Regions from separate parts of the Homo sapiens genome. Here region 2 is linked to region 1. Evidence: fine-mapped expression QTL. A gene starts in region 1. The other region holds a variant in brackets. All regions are shown on one strand. Distances are from middle to middle.

The links. PIP is the estimated chance that this variant, and not a neighbour inherited with it, causes the effect.
Region 2: its variant is the best candidate, but not a certain one, in a credible set for the expression of DCHS2 in prefrontal cortex (ROSMAP, PIP 0.51).

Annotation. Positions count from the first base shown.
Region 1 is chr4:154,489,222-154,494,542 of GRCh38, forward strand. It overlaps DCHS2 (dachsous cadherin-related 2), which reads right to left and starts at 2,578. Exons shown (of 20, transcript NM_001358235.2): 1 at 83-2,578. The coding sequence starts at 2,134. RefSeq lists enhancers at 406-1,362, 1,363-2,318, 1,787-1,926, 1,977-2,156, 2,959-3,008.
Region 2 is chr4:154,517,783-154,523,159 of GRCh38, forward strand. No RefSeq gene overlaps it. Among named protein-coding and RNA genes, the nearest start is that of DCHS2, 29 kb to the left of the region's middle. The variant C/CT (reference allele first, on the strand shown) is at 2,636.

The sequences.
Region 1 (5,321 bases):
ATCACAATTTCCTAGGCCAACTCACAACCCTCTCCATCCCTTCCCAAGCCTTCAGGTTGGCCCACAGGCCTGATGCACTCACCTGCAGAAAGCAGTGTCCAACCGGGGCATGCTCTGCAATGGTGGCATTGTACACCTGCCTCCAGAAGATGGGCTCATTGTCATTCACATCATCTACGGTGATGCTCACCAGGCAGGTGGCAGAGAGTGGGGGCTCTCCGAGGTCCTGGGCCACCACTTTCAGCTCCACCGCCTCCTGGACCTCTCGGTCTAGAGTCCGGATAGTGCTGATCGCACCGCTTTCGGAATCAATGGCAAAAGATGGTCCACACTCTGCGGTGTGGACCATCTTTGATTGCAGGGAGCCGAGATTGCAGGGAGCCGAGAGTTGGACTACAGTGTAGCGCAGCCAGGCGTGATCACTGCCTGCCTCGTCGGCATCGGAGGCGCTGACCCACATGACTACAGTGCCAGGGGCCGCGGCCTCGGACACTGAGGCCTTGTAATGCTGTTGGCTGAAGAGAGGTGGTTGGTCATTGAGGTCAGCGACCCGGAGTAGCAGCGTCTCCTCCGTGCTCAGCGGCGGGGACCCCGCGTCCGTGGCCACCAGTAGTAACTCATACAGATCGCGGCTCTCTCTGTCCAGGGGCCCCTCCACGCAAAGGAAAAATACCCCTGGGGGGCCGCCGGGTAGCAACGCGAAGTCTCCCTCTCCGCCTTCCAAGGACAGAGAGATGCTCCCGTCTCCAAGACCCACACCAAGCTCCCCTGTGGCCTCATCTTCCTTCTCCCAGTCACCGTCCGCGTCAGACACCGAGACGCGAGCCACGTAGTCGCCCGGTCGGGCGCCTTCAGAGACACGGGCGACGCCTCCCTCTGTGAGAAAGAGCACGTGAATTGCTGGCCGGTTGTCATTCACGTCCAGCACGGCGATGGACACGCGCACCGTGGCAACCTCAGGCTCGGCGCCTCCATCGCGGGCCTCCACCACCAACTGGTGCCAGGCCTGTGCCTCGCGGTCCAGAGGTCTCCACACTCGCACCACGCCGCTCAGCTCCTCCACCGCGAAGTAGGCCGCGTCGCCCAGTGCCCCGCCGCCGCTACCCGCCCCAGGCACTTGCCGGGCGCGGACGCTGTAGCGCACGAAGCCATTGGGCCCCAGGTCGCGGTCGGTGGCGCGCACGCGACAGACCTCGGCGCCCGGCTGGGCGTCCTCGCGCACCGCGGCGCGGTACTCGTCCTGCTCAAAGACCGGCGGGTTGTCGTTCTCATCCAGCACGCGCAGCTCCACGCTCAGGAGGCCGGTGCGCCGGGGTCGGCCGCCGTCCCATGCCTCGATCTGCAGCCGGTGCGCCGCCGCCTCCTCTCGGTCCAAGCGCCGCAGCAGCACCAGATCTAGAGGCTCCAGGGGTGACGAGGAGCCTGGCAAAAGCGGTGACGGTAGTGGCCCCGGAGTCCGGTAGCGCAACTGGAAGAACGGGCCTGCGGGGTCCTTGGGCAGGTCGGACGGTTGCACCAGGGTGTAGCCCTGAGTGCTGAACAGTCCGGCGTCCGGATCGTGGGCAACTGGCAGGCGGAAGGCGGTCCCTGGCGGGCTGAGCTCGGAGACGTCGAGTTGCAGGGAGTCGAGGGGAAAGCGGGGCGAGTGGTCATTCACGTCGTTGACGCGAATCTCCACCTGCACCACAGCGCCCAGCAGCGTGGCGGCGACGAAGCTGTAGTGGTCCCGCCGCTCGCGGTCCAGGCGCCGCGCAGTGCGGATGATGCCGGTGTCCGGGTGCACGTGGAAGTCGTCCAGCAGCGGGGAGTCATCGGAGTCCTCCGACAGAAAGAAGCCGCTCCCCTCCTGCTGCTGCGCGGCCGGCAGCCCGGCGCGGATGTCACCTACCAGCGTGTCCGGGGGAAGCCCCTCATCTACGGAAAGGGTGAGGTTGAACAACTGGGCAGAGGAGCCCGAGGCCGCCCACAGCCACACGTGCACCAAGAGCCAGAGCAGGGAGCGCTGCGTCCTGGCGCCGCTGCTGCCTGACCGCCCATGGGGTGTATCTCTCCTCCCGGGGAGCAGAAGGAGCTTCCCGACCGGAGCCCGCCGCTGCTGACGCCCTTCGCCCATCTTCCGCCCACAAGGGCTCATTTCTCCTCCAGCTCCTTGGGAAGGCTCTCGGGTAACTGCCAGCTTGTGGCAGGATCGCAGAAAAATCCAGGAGCCTCTTCAGTGTCTGAGCCAGAGAAGAAAAGACTTTGTTTGGCAAACAAACCGACGGCCCAGGAATTCCCGAGGTTACATCTGCAACTGGTGAAAGCGTCCTCTGCCTGCAGCTCACGCAGACAGGGAAGTAAGCTCTAGCTGCCTCTGCCGCGGCAGCCACCTCTTCTGCCCCTGGATTTCTTTAAACGAATCTCATCTCTTTTTCTCTCTCCTTTTATTCCCTTTACATCTGTTCCTTGTTCTACTCGGCTGGTTGTTCCCCCCTGGTAAAGTCAGGTGCATTATTTCTTTTGCCAAAAAGGAGGAGATTATATGAAGCGCGCACACACAAGGAGAGGATGGGGATCTGGCCGGAGTAGGGGGTGGAGTAAGGGCGTGGAGGCAGGGAGTCAGGGCGCTGGGGAGGAGGGAGAGAGGGAGGGGGGAAGGGAGGTCTGCGGCCCTGTCCGCTGCTCCGGGGGCGGGGCGGTGGTTCCCCACTGTGTCTCCGGGCGCCAGGGACCGCGCGACTCCTGCTCCGACCCAGCCTCCGCCGCCTGCCTTCCCCTCCCTGCCGTGTGATGCGGCGCACACGAGGGCAAACTCCAACCTGCGAGCCGCGCTCTGCAGCAGGGCGGAAGAGGAGCAAATGCAAAAGCACTGGGAGACGTGCACCGCGGGGCGGGTGGGGGACGCGCAGGCGGGGCGTCTGCCTGGGCTTGGCCAAGTGCCAAGTGATGATGGGTGCGGGGAGGTGAGAGGAGCGGCCTCTCCGCGGCCTCCCCCTCCATCCGCTTGACCGTCCCTCTGCAGGCCTGACTCTTGGCTCGCGCTGAGCCAAGAGGGTAGAGGTTATCATCACTTTGGGGTGCCAAACTTGTGTTCTCCATTTGGCGAGAGGGACTCCCGTCCGCAGCGGAAGGACAGATGGAGTCAAAGGCCGATGCATAGCTGGGGCCAGGATGGCTTTAAAGGGGAGAAGGCGGAACTTGGAAAAGCCTTCCAGAAAACCCGAGAAATCTGTGGCACACATGGTGCAAACCACACTTTATTATGCGTGCTACTACCCAGCGACGTGTGAGCCTCTTGTCACTCCCCTCTGCCACCAGGAATGACGACAATATATCCGCCCTGAGAACCCTTTTTCTACATTCAGCGCCATCATAACACTTCCAGGATGTCTGACGATGCTGACTGATGAGCAGAAAGCCCTGGTGGCTGACACCCCGCAAGCCCTCAGCGCTCCCCCACCACCCCTAGGCAAGGAAGTGTGCAAGCGGGATAACTCTACGGATACCACTTTCAAAACTAGCTTCTGTCTGAGCCGAACGCAAATGCCAATAAATAGCCATAGTCGCAGATTTCCCTTCAATTAACTATAATAATCGGTAGAAACTGATCAATGGCCTCTAATAAAGTACGCCTGAGAAAAGACTCTCTGGACTCTTAAAAATGGCTGACCATATTTAGCAAGTGGTTTCTGCAATTTTGCATTTGGGCCTGAGAGAAGAATTAATTTCCTAGATACCGTTTCTCTCCTTTAGGGAGGACCAAAAGCCCTGCATAGTGGTTTCTTGCAGCAACAACAAAATGCCTTTTTAAATGTGCAACGGAGGTGTATGTAATTGCTAATCCACAGCCACACCGTTATCTCTACCTGTGACCAAATAACAATAAAATAATTGACTTTGTAGCATATATGTTACCGAAAATGGGGACATTATTAAAATAAATTCAGCTTTCTTTCCCCCAATGAACTCTCTTTAACCATTAAAGAGATTTGTTATGAGTCTTTAGAGTCTTTTTATCTTCAGTCTCTGCATTTGCACCCTAACTAGTCCCTCCCCTCCCACTCTTGCCCCTTTATAAGTAATTCTTTTCTGTTTTTGCTATTGTTGTTGTTGTTGCTGTTTTGTTTTCTGAGTCAGGATCTCACTCTGTCACCCAGGCTGGAGTGCGGTGGTGCAATCATGGCGCACTGCAACCTCATGGACTCAAGTGATTCCATCACCTCAGCTTCCAGAGTAGCTGGGACTATGGGTGCCCACCACTATACCTGGCAAATTTTATATTATTTTATTAATTTATTTGTTTATTTTTTTTACTTTTGTAGAGATGAGGTCTCACTATATTGCCCAGGCTCGTCTCGAACTCCTGGGGCCAGTCTTCCTGCCTAGGCCTCCCAAAGTGCTGGGATTACAGGCTTGAGCCACCGCAACCAGCCTATAAGTAATTCTTGAACAAGCATCTGGATTAATGTTTTTAAAGCTGTCTCAAATCATATTACCTCCTGCTTAGAACCTGAAATGATTCCATTATACTTAGATTATAATTCAGACTCCTTCAATCAAGCTCCTTTTAGTAGTACAGGATCCTATCCATCTTTCTGACCTTGCCTCATACCACCACTCTGGACTCAGCCATCTGCCTTCTTTTTGATCTTGTACCTTTGAATTGTTAGAACTTTCCATGCCTGGGAGTTCTTTTTTCTGCTTTGGAAAGAGCTAGCTCTTTCTCATTCAGGTCTCAACTCCAATGCCCTCTGTTAAGAAAGATCTTCCCTAATTACCCTATTTCAGATAGCCTTTCTACTATAAATGCTATATCCTTTCAGTATATTTCATTCACAACACCTATCAGCATCTGAAATCAACTTGCTTTTTTCATTTGTTTATTAGATTATTACAACCTCAAAACCTTCATTCTGCTTTATCTCAGCACCTAGAACAGTACCTAGCATGTAGTGTGTCTCTATTTACTAAGTATGTGTTGGACAGACGGTTGGTTGAACCTATGGGTAAGTGAATGCATTTGTCTGTTAAAGTAGAAGTTGGAAGCCATAACCAAGAATGAATTGGCCATGAGAATCTTCACTGTAATGAATTATGTCTTTGCAATCTTACTCATCTTAATTATTTCATAGGACTTCTTGAACTTATTTTTCAGCTTCGTCAACTTACTTTGTAAACCATTGTATTAGTCTGTTCTTGCATTGCTGTAAAGAACCTGAGACTGGGTAATTTATAAAGAAAAAATGTTTAATTGGCTCATGGTTCTGCAGGCTGTACAGGAAGCATGGTGGGATCAGTTTCTGGGGAGGCCTCAGGAAACTTACAATCATAGCAGAAAGTGA
Region 2 (5,377 bases), 29 kb after region 1:
TTCACGCCACTGCACTCTAGCCTGGGAGCCTGGCCAACAGAGCGAGACTCTGTGTCCAGAAAAAAAAAAGAAGGAAAGAATTCATAATGTAAGAATAATATGGTTGGAAGAACCTATTTGATAATTATCATAGATGCTATATTTTTTCAGGTTATCCATGGCTTTTGTGGAGTCCATACTCCTTAGAAAGAGTTCAGCACAGGAGAGCACCCCGTGGGTCCTCTTTTGCTAGATGAGCTAGTATTTTAAAAGTACTTAGATGTAGACAAGCTCCTCAGGGTGACAACTAGCTTACAAACAGCATCCCACAAGCACACAATGCCAGTTTCATACTGCCCCAATGTCTCCAGACCTGCCTAGGGTCTCAACCGTGACTAGGCATTAGAACTACCCAGTGAACTTTAAAAAATATGATGTCCCAGCCCAGATCAATCTGTCCCTGTTTCTGGGAGGGGAGGCAGGTCTAGGCGGCTTTTAAAACTCCCTGGGTGGATCTAATGTGAAGCCAGAGTTAAGAACGAAGTCCTTAAGCTGTTCTGATTCCAGGTTTCTTTGATCTAAACCAAACACGTGTAGGTCCACAGCACTAGCTAAAAGAACTGAAGGATCAAAAGTTTCTCTGCCCCATCTGAAATTGCCAACATCAGATCCTCACTGAATCTCCTGCGCTCCTATTTCTGCTCCTCTCTCTCCCTCTTTTTCTCCCTGCCTTACTCTTTCCCTTTGTCCCTAGCTTTCTTCTCTCTCTTGCTCTCATCTCCTTTTCTGTCTGTCTCCTTATTCTCTCAGTTCTGCTTTGAGAAATCTTCCCCCTCAATAATATGCCTTTGATCCCTTTCACTTTCTTCCTTTCTGATAGTTTATCTCAGGAATCCACCTTTCTTATTTTTCATTTATTGTTCGATTTTTGTTTCATTTGTGAGCCAAACTAAAAGATTGTGTGTGTGGTGAGGGAAGAGCAGGAGGGCTGGAGGGCAATGATCCAGACATACACATAAAAACATTGAAAAGAAAAAAGTTCAAAAGGAATCAATGCCACCAACTTTCAAAGCACTTGAAAGCAGCCACAAGTCCCATTCCAAATCTCCCTATCCTGCTCTAATTAGACTTTCCTTTCCTTAATCACCAGCATTCAAGAAAACAAAAAACAGAACAACAAAAAAAACCCCACTATTTTGTTTTTAATGTAGTTTAATGTTCTTCTCTTTTAATTAAGGGTACTACAACACCACTGTGCTAGTCTTGGCTGCTTTCAGTATTCAGTTCTCCAGTTCAGTGGCTGAATGCCTGCCACCATGGTGGCTGTAGAGAGCTGCAGATTGAGAAATTTAAGATCTTAAGGAAAAACTGTTTGGAGGTCATCAAGATTGAGAGTAAAACCATTAGTAATGATAAGTTCTATACCATGAATTTCCATTTGACATCTCTTGCTCTCTGGAATCTCTTGAGGATCTCCCACATAGGCCATTTTAGTAAGGTGCTCATAAATCTGTTTAGCATTGTTGAAGATAAAACACAGACCAAAATGCATTGGTCTCTGTGACTGTACTCCCATCCCAAGTGCCCCACATATTCGACAGTTTCACCCAGCGAGTGTTTGTGCTTATCTCTGCCTCCGCTGTCCTCAGTCCTCTGTGCTGGAATTATTCTCCAGTTGTCACATGTGCTCCAGGAACAGCCATCTGAGACTGCAGCTCACATTCTGCGCTCATTTTTGCCATCCCTGTCTATTTCTCCCATTACCTCATTTAACCCTGGAAAGAGTGACTTAAAACTTACTCAATAAAAAGCTAATTCCTTGGGATTGTTGTAAATATATACAGAAAAGACTTCGGTATGCTAGGATTTATATATATATATAAAAGAAAAAAGGGGAAGAGTCAGACTGGTTCAGATTCCCTGGGCTTTTGCCAACTGACCTAGGAACCCAGACACAAGAATGGGAATGTTTCTGGAAAATGCTTCCTGAGTTCCAAACAACCAACTTACAGCAAATATGGGGCATAAAGTCAGCATACAGCTATTCAGTCAATAATTGCTGTTCTGAGAGTTGTGAATTGAGGACTGCCTAAGGTGATGGGAATCCAAGCGTGCTGTTTGAATAAATAAGACAATTTTGGCTTGTAAAGCCTTCTTAGCCTGTGGGGGATGCTTAAATGGTGCTGGCTAAGATTATTTGGAGAATCAACACTGACGGCCTTGGGGATGAGAGAAGTCAAAGGAGGACCACACCAGGGAAGTGGATGGGTTCCAACAGTTTCCACCTCCCTGGTGTGGGTCCTTGCTGCTGCTGTCACCCTGTCTCAGACTTCCTTGTTGCCAACAAAAACTAATAATAACCTGACTCCTTTCAGGAAACCAAAGATAAAGGAAAACAAATAAAGCAGGATTCAATGAGCTAAGGATCAATCGTTTAAGAACAATAATCTTTCAAACCAACTAGCTAATAATAGATGCAACAAATAAAAAATAAGCAAACATGATGAAAAAAGCAAAAGTAATATTAAAAGAGCTCAAAGAATAACTGAAAGAATAAAATTTTAAATAATTCAGAGTACATTTAAATAAAAATACTGTAAAGAATAATTAGTATGGTGAAATAAACAAATCTTTATTAAATACCTATTTTTTCTTT[C/CT]TTTTTTTTTTTTTTTGAGACGGAGGTCACCCAGGCTGGGGTACAGTGGTGTGATCTCGGCTCTCTGCAACCTCTGTCTCCCAGGTTTAACCAATTTTCTTGCCTCAGCCTCCTGAGTAGCTGGGACTACAGGCATGAGCAACCATGCCTGGGTAATTTTTTTTTTTGCATTTTTAGTAGAGATGGGGTTTCACCATGTTAGTCAGGCTGGTCTCAAACTCCTGACCTCAAATGATCCACCTGCCTCGGCCACCCAGAGTGCTGGGATTACAGGTGTGAGCCACCGCACCTGGCCAAATACCTAATATTTTAAAAGGCAAAATATTCTACATAAATTCAAACTCTGTTAATGGGTATTGTGCCAGAAATAGGCTATCAGTGTAAATATGAGCTACTAAATGCTTATTCATTTGTTCACCAGCACATATCAAGGAAACATTAGTCAGCCAGCTGAATTATGAAAATTCTCTCCCTATAATTAAATTATCATAGTACTAATTAAAACAAGTGTATACTTTTTATACCTGCATGTCCTTAAACAAATGTCCACTTCTATCTAGTCAAACACTAAATGAATGTATTGTAAACATTGCATGAATTCTAAATCCCAAAGACCAATGCACAGAACAATTTCATTTTGCTTTTCAAGATAGCAAAAAGACTGAGAATAAGTCTCGCTCACCCATATGAATTTCCTATGCAGGCATTATTCCCGGGTTATCTAGAGTTGAATTGTTAATGCTATTTAATTTTAATAGCCTTCTCAATTTTAAATCCTACTTGCAGAATGTGTACTCCATTTATGCTATTTCATGCTTGACTTGTCTACATATCTGGGGAAAATTTTTATTTTGATTTGGGTTCAGAATCAAAAAAAAAAAATTCGCAACTTGGAAACGACTAATATCTGAAAGCACGACCAAATAAATCTTCTCTCATTCACAGCACCCAGGAAAGCCAAGATTGGCATGAATGAATATGCTTTCCAAGCCCTGGCTTTTCTTGGGATCAAGAAGATTTTGCCTTGTATTTTTGCATGTACAGAAATAAGAACAAAAAGCACAAATATATATTCGATTTTTGCACTAAGTTTTGGGCTGCTTATACAACTTAGAAATATTTCTCTATGTATCCATCTTTCTATTTTCAGGTAGAGTCCAATGCCATGAAAGGAGCTACGCTGAGTGGAAGAACATCAACTATGTTTTTAATGGTCATTAAATGAAGTCTCAAAAGTGAAGATATCCAATCAAGTCCAATCCCTGGAACAATGTAGAAAAGATGGACCTAAGAAACCAAAATTGAAATGTCTTTTTCATGGATTTAGTGCAGATTCCCTTTAAGAAATTGATAAATTTCACTGTGGACTGGTTGCTAGGATACCCCTCAAAATCTATTAAAGTAAGCTCTTTCCTTTAAAGGACTGGGCAGGGTTTCCATTATTTCAAAATGACTTTGAAAATCATGCTGGGTGTTCCATCTAAGTGAATGAAACAGGTAAATGAATGGCCCTTAAGAAAAATAAATGACCATGAAGGATCTAAAAAATAATTAGGCTGTCTCATAATGATACATTTAAAAGTTAGCTTTGTCAAGGAGATTCAGATTTTCAAACCTGAAAGGAAGAAATAAAAATCAAATGTGAAATGGAAAATGTGAAGTTCCTTGGGGGTAGTTAAAGGCCTACTGTTGTAGAAAGCAAGGGACAGAGTTTACATTTAGAGTGGGCATGTTGTTTGACACTTATCATCTTAAATGTCATTTTTCTCTGGAACAAAAAGTAGCATGGGTACTTAAAATGTTTCACATTTTGAATTTCTGTCAATTAGTGAAAACTTGGTAAGCGCTCTTACAGGAATGTTCATATCCAGTTCTGTTACAAGGAAGGCAGGCTGGGGTAAAAAAGATGAATGAGTTCTAGAAAGGAAACTAGAAGCCTGACTCCTGAACTGAGGACACAGAGTGAATGTTCTTTGATATTTTGATATTCACATCTCTGGAAACTCATTACATATGGCTGTTTTCCTTATCTCTTTTCGTCAACTATGGATAAAAAATTCTGAAATCAAGAGTGATCCTGTATCACCAAAAATGGGAACTTTGATGTCAATACTACCTAAAGTGATCTACAAATTTAATGCAATCCCTATCAAAATCCCAATGTTTTTGCTTAAGCAGAAAAAAATCCATCCTAAGACTCATGTGGAATCTCAAGGGACCCAGAATAGCCAAAACAATCTTAAAAAGAACAACTTCAGAGGTTTCACACTTCCCAGTATCAAAATGTATTACAAAGATATAGTAATCAAAATAGTGTGATACTGGCATAAAGGGACATATAGACCAATGGAACAGAATAGAAAGCCTAGAAATAAATTATCCATATGTGGTCAAATGATTTTCAACAAGGCTGCCAAGACCAGTAAATGGGGAAAGGACAGTCTTTTCAACAAATGGTGTTGGGAAAACCAGATATCCCCATGCGAAAGAATAAAGTTGGACCCGTAGGTAACACCATATACAAAAATTAACTCAAAATGGATTAAAAACTTAAACTGAAGAGCTAAAACTATAAAACTCTTAGAAGACAACATCGGAGAAAAGCTTCATGACACTGGATTTGGCCATGATTTCTTGCACCTGACACCAAAAGCACAGGCAACAAAAGTACAAATAGATAAATTGGACTACATAAAAATTAATCATTGTACATCAAAAGACACAATAAACGGAATGAAATGG